Homo sapiens: one gene and its partner. The protein of the gene in region 1 interacts with the protein of each later gene in a biochemical or structural test. Each region holds a gene or a part of one and is shown in the gene's direction. Other genes may lie near its edges. The genes, in order: RASSF5 and MRAS.

What was found.
Region 2: the proteins of RASSF5 (region 1) and MRAS form a complex in vitro, tested with the Homo sapiens proteins (one study listed by BioGRID).

The regions. Positions count from the first base shown.
Region 1 is NC_000001.11:206,583,750-206,587,567, forward strand, and holds part of RASSF5 (ras association domain-containing protein 5), read left to right. Parts: intron 1-637; coding exon 638-935; intron 936-1,430; coding exon 1,431-1,546; intron 1,547-3,076; coding exon 3,077-3,229; 3' UTR 3,230-3,818. UniProt on the Homo sapiens protein: Potential tumor suppressor. Seems to be involved in lymphocyte adhesion by linking RAP1A activation upon T-cell receptor or chemokine stimulation to integrin activation.
Region 2 is NC_000003.12:138,403,279-138,406,324, forward strand, and holds the end of MRAS (ras-related protein M-Ras isoform 1 precursor), read left to right. Parts: 3' UTR 1-2,255; downstream 2,256-3,046. UniProt on the Homo sapiens protein: Signal transducer in the Ras-MAPK signaling pathway that regulates cell proliferation and survival. Core component of the SHOC2-MRAS-PP1c (SMP) holophosphatase complex that regulates the MAPK pathway activation.

The DNA.
Region 1 (3,818 bases):
TGAGAGAGGGACATACTCTCTCAGAGAGGGGAGGGCACCCAACTTAGCACCCAGTTGGGAAAGGCTGTCTTCAATAGGGAGGGGAGAAGGTAGAAAAACACTGCCCCCTGCTGGTGGCTGGCATCAGCTGGCTCTTTGGGGTTCAGCCAGATGGAGCACCAGAAAATCCAGTCACAAATGCACCTAGGTTTAAGTCTTAAAGGCTGTTTCTTAGTAAAGAGATACAGGAGGAAATCTAGTGGGCTGGTTCTCCAAGGCCCTCATTATAGAGCCTTCCTGCTTCCTGCCTGGTTCAGAGGTACAAACTAGAGTGGCTACCCCACACCCTGCCTCTTACAATGGGCACTCACCAAAGGCAACTGGTTACAGGAGGTTTAGGGAGCTGGCCTGAGCCTCCTGGGAGGGAAATCCACTGCAGCCCCACAGGTCCTCTTTGGTAGCTGGATCCTGAGGGTCTTCTCCCAGCCCACTATGGGGAAAGGGATCTCTGCTCCTTCCTCCAGCTCTCCCACGTCAGCAGAGGCAGGAAAGAACTCAAGGAGACAGGTGGGTGCTGCTGGGGCAATGGCCCCGAGTGGCAGATATGATCATGCAAGGCGGACGGCCCTGACCCCCTGTGACATGCCCCCGCTGGCAGAGTGAAGACGGCACCTACACGGGTTTCATCAAAGTGCATCTGAAACTCCGGCGGCCTGTGACGGTGCCTGCTGGGATCCGGCCCCAGTCCATCTATGATGCCATCAAGGAGGTGAACCTGGCGGCTACCACGGACAAGCGGACATCCTTCTACCTGCCCCTAGATGCCATCAAGCAGCTGCACATCAGCAGCACCACCACCGTCAGTGAGGTCATCCAGGGGCTGCTCAAGAAGTTCATGGTTGTGGACAATCCCCAGAAGTTTGCACTTTTTAAGCGGATACACAAGGACGGACAAGGTAGGAGAAAGAGTGAACCCAACCAGACCGTTCCCTTCCTACCTGTGTCCAAGCCCACCCACTAAAACTCCTGCCGGCCTTGGGTGGGAGCTGTGGGCTTCTCCTGAGCACCAGGGGTCCAGCTGCCCATGTGGTGTTCAGATCTGTGGAATCCGGGCAGGGAGGCAAGAGCAGAGTCCCTGACTCTGCATGTGACTTCAGGAAAACCACACCCTAGGCTCCCATTTCCTGATCTGTGCAATGGGAGGAATCTGCCCCACCATTCCTAATCTTTCAGGAGATGATGTGAATGGAATCATGCTTTAAACTCTGAGCAGACACCCAAGATAAAAGGTTATTGCCCTGTTCATTACTGTCATGTTCATTTCATTAAAAGGCCCGTGTCTACTTCCAGTTGTACGTACCCCACCTCTGCATTTCCAATCCTTTCCCGCAAGCCTGGGCCCCGCCCTTCTTTTCTGGGAAGAGCTCCCAGCACCCTCTCTTGGTTTGCAGTGCTCTTCCAGAAACTCTCCATTGCTGACCGCCCCCTCTACCTGCGCCTGCTTGCTGGGCCTGACACGGAGGTCCTCAGCTTTGTGCTAAAGGAGAATGAAACTGGAGAGGTAGAGGTAGGTCTGGACCCATTGTGCAAACCCAGGCCTTAGGGCACCCTGGGTGGGTGCAGGTGGGTGTTGTCCTAACTACCTCACATAGGTGGGAGCCACGCAGCACGGGCAGGAAGGTGACTGTTGAGAGAGTGAGCAGGGGTGGGTGATGGGCCTGGGGGTCAGTGTTTCAGCCAGGACTCTGAACACCCTGGGGTAGCACATTAGGGCCTGTGTGTGGCAAGGCCTGTGGAAAGAAAGGATTTCATGTGCTTTATTTCTGAAAACTCAGGGAGGAGGGGGACCAAGAAACTCCCTGTGCTCAGGCACAGGCTGTTTTTGCTTCAAAATGGCCCGAGGGCTACCAAGCTCCATCTCTGGGCTCCACTGGGTATAGACGTTTTTGAGCCATTTGTCCTCCCTTTTCTTGACCTCCATCCCCCAAGGGGAGCTAACCAGTGTGTAGTCTTGTGGCATAAACTGGAGTAAAACCAGGCCGGTGCCACCCATGGCCTGAGAATGACCAACAGGGGAAGGTCTCAGTGTTTGTCACACTGTGTTCAGTGGAGGCCTAGAGTTTTAAGGAGTTTTGGGAGTCACTGCGGAGATTTAGGGATCAAGGCAGCTGGGACTCTGTCCCTTCTCCCCATTTCAGCAAGGGCCGCTCTGCTCCCATCTGCTTTCTTTATTGGCATCTGTGCAGAATATGTTTGGAAAAAGTACTCCATGGACAGTAGCTGAATGCTGCTGGCCCTGTGGAAAGCTCAGGCACTTTGAAGTGTGGAGACCTGGGCTCTAGTTCCAGTTCTGCTGCAATGAGCTCTGTGATTGTGATTACGCCACCTTCCCTGTGTGGACTTGAGGTTTCTCACTTATCCATAGCGAGGACCAAACCAGATAAACCTTAGTACTCTATTGTGCTCAAAGAGCTTAGGAGTCTCAATTGTTGGCCGCACAGGGCTTGTGCTCTTGGGTCAGCCTGATGGAAGTCCAAATTGCCTTCTGCCATCAGAGGCCAAGTCCTTTAGGGGTAGGCCTGGGCCAGTCAGGCTCTCATTATCTGCTCTGCCAGTCATGGGAGGTAGATACCCCAATTTCCCAGCAGATAACAGGCTGAGAAGGGTGGAAAGCTGTGCTCGAGGTCACACTGCTGGGAGAGGTGGAGTCAGGCCCAACCCCGGTCTCCTGAGTCCACGTTCCACTCCTCCACCTGCTTTCTGAGGGTCTGCATGTTGGGAGGCTGGGTGGTTCCAGCATCACTGTCAAGATCTCGGCTGCTACACAGAAACTTAAGATTATTGAGTTTCAAAATAAAAACATGGTTCATAGACTGGCAACTCTTGGTCATGAGATGCCAGCATTTGGAATTTTGTTGCTGCTATGACAGGCATGCAAAGCCCAGGCTTCGCTGATTCAGTCTGTTCAGTAGCAAACTGTGTGTGAATCACGGATGTGAACTGGGAAGGGGAAGGCAGCAGGGTCTCTCAGGTCGTGTCAACTTCTAACCTGTCTCCTATTCTGTTTCTTCCCACAAATCTCCCTCTCGCCTCACAGTGGGATGCCTTCTCCATCCCTGAACTTCAGAACTTCCTAACAATCCTGGAAAAAGAGGAGCAGGACAAAATCCAACAAGTGCAAAAGAAGTATGACAAGTTTAGGCAGAAACTGGAGGAGGCCTTAAGAGAATCCCAGGGCAAACCTGGGTAACCGGTCCTGCTTCCTCTCCTCCTGGTGCATTCAGATTTATTTGTATTATTAATTATTATTTTGCAACAGACACTTTTTCTCAGGACATCTCTGGCAGGTGCATTTGTGCCTGCCCAGCAGTTCCAGCTGTGGCAAAAGTCTCTTCCATGGACAAGTGTTTGCACGAGGGTTCAGCTGTGCCCGCCCCCAGGCTGTGCCCCACCACAGATTCTGCCAAGGATCAGAACTCATGTGAAACAAACAGCTGACGTCCTCTCTCGATCTGCAAGCCTTTCACCAACCAAATAGTTGCCTCTCTCGTCACCAAACTGGAACCTCACACCAGCCGGCAAAGGAAGGAAGAAAGGTTTTAGAGCTGTGTGTTCTTTCTCTGGCATTGATTCCTCTTTGAGTTCTCTTACTTGCCACGTACAGGACCATTATTTATGAGTGAAAAGTTGTAGCACATTCCTTTTGCAGGTCTGAGCTAAGCCCCTGAAAGCAGGGTAATGCTCATAAAAGGACTGTTCCCGCGGCCCCAAGGTGCCTGTTGTTCACACTTAAGGGAAGTTTATAAAGCTACTGGCCCCAGATGCTCAGGGTAAGGAGC
Region 2 (3,046 bases), on another chromosome or scaffold:
ACGAATACACTGACACGTCAAAGTAACCTAATGTGGACACCATCCAGAAAACTCCAGTTCATGCTGGATCTTAACCAAAAATGATTCAATACTGTTATCACTAAAACAGCACCAAGACCTGAAGCCATCTTCCCTTGGAGTCAACTGACTACCACCTCTATAAGCCTAGTCAATGAGCAGACCCCTTCCAGTATTTGTAAAAGTAGTACTAGGTTGCCTTTTTGGCAATTTTTATTGACCTGTTGAATCTTGACTATAAAATGATCTGAGAAGTAAGGAAGGCTGGGCTGATGTGTGGCTCTCATATACCTTCTGCAAGGGGGCAGTCTCCCCAGCTCCCTGATGATGCTCACCCCCGCCCCCCCACCTCAGGTGCTGCTGGTGTGAGCCAAAGACTGGAGTTTTTCCAGCTGGGGTGGGAGTGGAGAGACAACAGGAACAACGCTGCACCAAAGAAAAGGTCAGAATAAAAGGCAGCACAGCTGGTGACCTTATTTTCTAGATGTTACAAATCAGGTCACTATGCAAACTAGAATATCCTCAGCAGGTGGCCTGGCCACTCTGGAGAAAGAAACCCAAGGAAAGTGAGCACCCAACTGGATGCCAAGACACCCGGGTTCTGAAAATGTGCTGTGTTCCTACCTCGGCAAGATCACCAGCACTGAGGGGCCCAGCTGGAGAATGATTCTGCTACAAAAGGAGACAGTTGAGACTTTTGCTTGTTGGAAATCAAACTTCTTATTTGTCTAAATTGCCCCTTTTTCTGTTCCTAAAAGGAAGGATAAGAGAGAACATTCCAGGTGAGGCACTTCAAAGTTTCCTTAGACCCTATAGTGTTAAGAGGTATTTTAAACACTAAAAGGACAAAGCTCTTCCCAATCCTTATGCTTCCCTAAGTGGTATCTGCAGCAGTTTGTTGTGTGCAGTTTGATGGCAGCTGCAAACTGGAGGTGAGGCGGAGGAAAGGCAGGTAGGAAGGAGTAAGGATGGAGATGCTCAGAATCAAGAGCATGGCGGAGTAGGAGAAGAAGCCCTGCACACAGGGCAGTGTCCACAGCCAGAAAACTCCTGCTGGGCACCAACCACTACGAGCATACCCCATGCCCACCGTGGAGCTGCAACTCCTCGACAGCACTGAGTTTGATAGTCTCACTGGAAGCAGATCAGCTGATGTAGAACAGAGACCTCGGCCATAAAGGTGAGAAGACATAGGGATTTCAACCACACAGTTGGGACAGAAGGGACAGTGCATCTGTTCATCCATCCTGCACTTGGCCCACGTTGAACTCCATGGTGCCTGAGAGAGACTAGTTAAGGGTTGGTCTTCTGTATCCTCTGCTGTTGAGCCTCTGGTAAGCTTTCATCTCCCATGAACTCATTTCCCCATAAATGAAATGGGTAAATAATGCCCCATTTGTAGAAGTGGGCCCTCATGACTGAGGTAGCTTCCAGATAGGCCAGAGTAGAGTGTAGAGTGTGCCCCGTGACATCCCTCCATCTTCTCCTCCATTATCATCTAGCAGGGTCAGACTGGGAAACCTGGTTGGCCACGCCACACCATGACCGAGGAGCCAACTGGGACTTCTGGCTGTTTGACATCCTCATGTTCCCGTTGGTCTTCCGGAGAATAGTGCTACCCTCACATCCCCTGGAGCACAGCCTTCCTGAAATGCCCTCACCCCATGCCTTTGCCATTGTGTGCTCTCAGATTTCTTCCACTGTTTGACACCCTCCTTAGAGGGCTGCTCTTTTTTTTCCAGAGATAATCCTAGCCATCCTCTCCACTCCCACGGCTGGGGACAATGGCCACTTACTACCTGTGCACTTTGCCACTCGGGACACCTGGATGGTTTCTCTTAGGACTTTGCCCACCTCCTTCTCATGGCACTTGCTGTGGAAAATGCCTGGCTGGCCTCGTGGGGCCTGTCTCACTTTTCCAGGAGACATGACCCACTAACGTGGCAACTTTAACCCAAAGGCCCCTCAGACATGTTACAGCAAATCTGGAGCCACAGACAGGTTCCCTCCATTGGCAGCCCATTGTGTTTGAAATTCCATGTCGGGTTTACTTGGAATGAAAGATACTTGAATTATTGTGCGCCTGTGAGCGCCCAGCTTCTGTTTCATAGTCTTAACAGGTGGCCATTGTCGTGAAACGAGTGATGCCTGAAGATCTCAGTGATGTTTGAACCTTCTGTGTAACTTTTTATTAAGTCTTTGTATCTCTCGACTGATTAATAAAGAAGAGAAACACGTATCTGTCTTAGTTCCTTTTACTCCAGTATTCCTGAAGTTTTGCTGAGAACATTGTGAGTTGTTGGTGTTTTGCCCAGAACATCCACGTCTTACAGAGCATGACCTTGGTGCTAACCAGATCTGAAGTAAGGAGGAGCCCACTGGTGGCCGTGGGGTGTCTCCTTCCTGCATGGAGCTGGAGGATGAAGGCAGGCTAGCACAGCATTTAGAGGCACTACCTCTTGATACTGGGCAGATCTGGATTTTAGCCCTACTACCGACCTTTGTATGCCTTTGGGCAAATGACCTGCCTTAGTCTTGAGCTGCCTTGCCTGTGAATGGGACACTAATGTGCACTTCAAAGTAGCTGGAGGACTAAAGCTAATGTAGGAGTGTGGTGAGGAGCCCAGAAACAGTGCTCTTTGTCCAGGACACCTATTGGATTATCTGCCTGACATTCCTTTTCATAGAAACTGCCCTCTTCCCCCATCCTTAGGGTTACAGTCTTTGGCACAATGTGATTTCATTTTTGTTGATTAAATAGGGCGGGTACTTGACCAAGCTGAATCTCTCAGGCTCCGTTTTCCAGGGAGTACAAGCCAAAACCCTCTCTTGGTAGCTCTTTGGGCAACTCTAGCTGAAACATGTAAGCCTGGGTGCTGGAGGATGCTTCTTATGCCCTCTGGGCTGGAGGCAGAGAAGGCTAGACTGCAGACTGGGGAGAGAGGTGATATGGTGGACCACTCAGGCCTGTCTTCCTGCCCATTCATTCTTTCCACAAATATTTATTGGGCACTACCATATGCTAGGC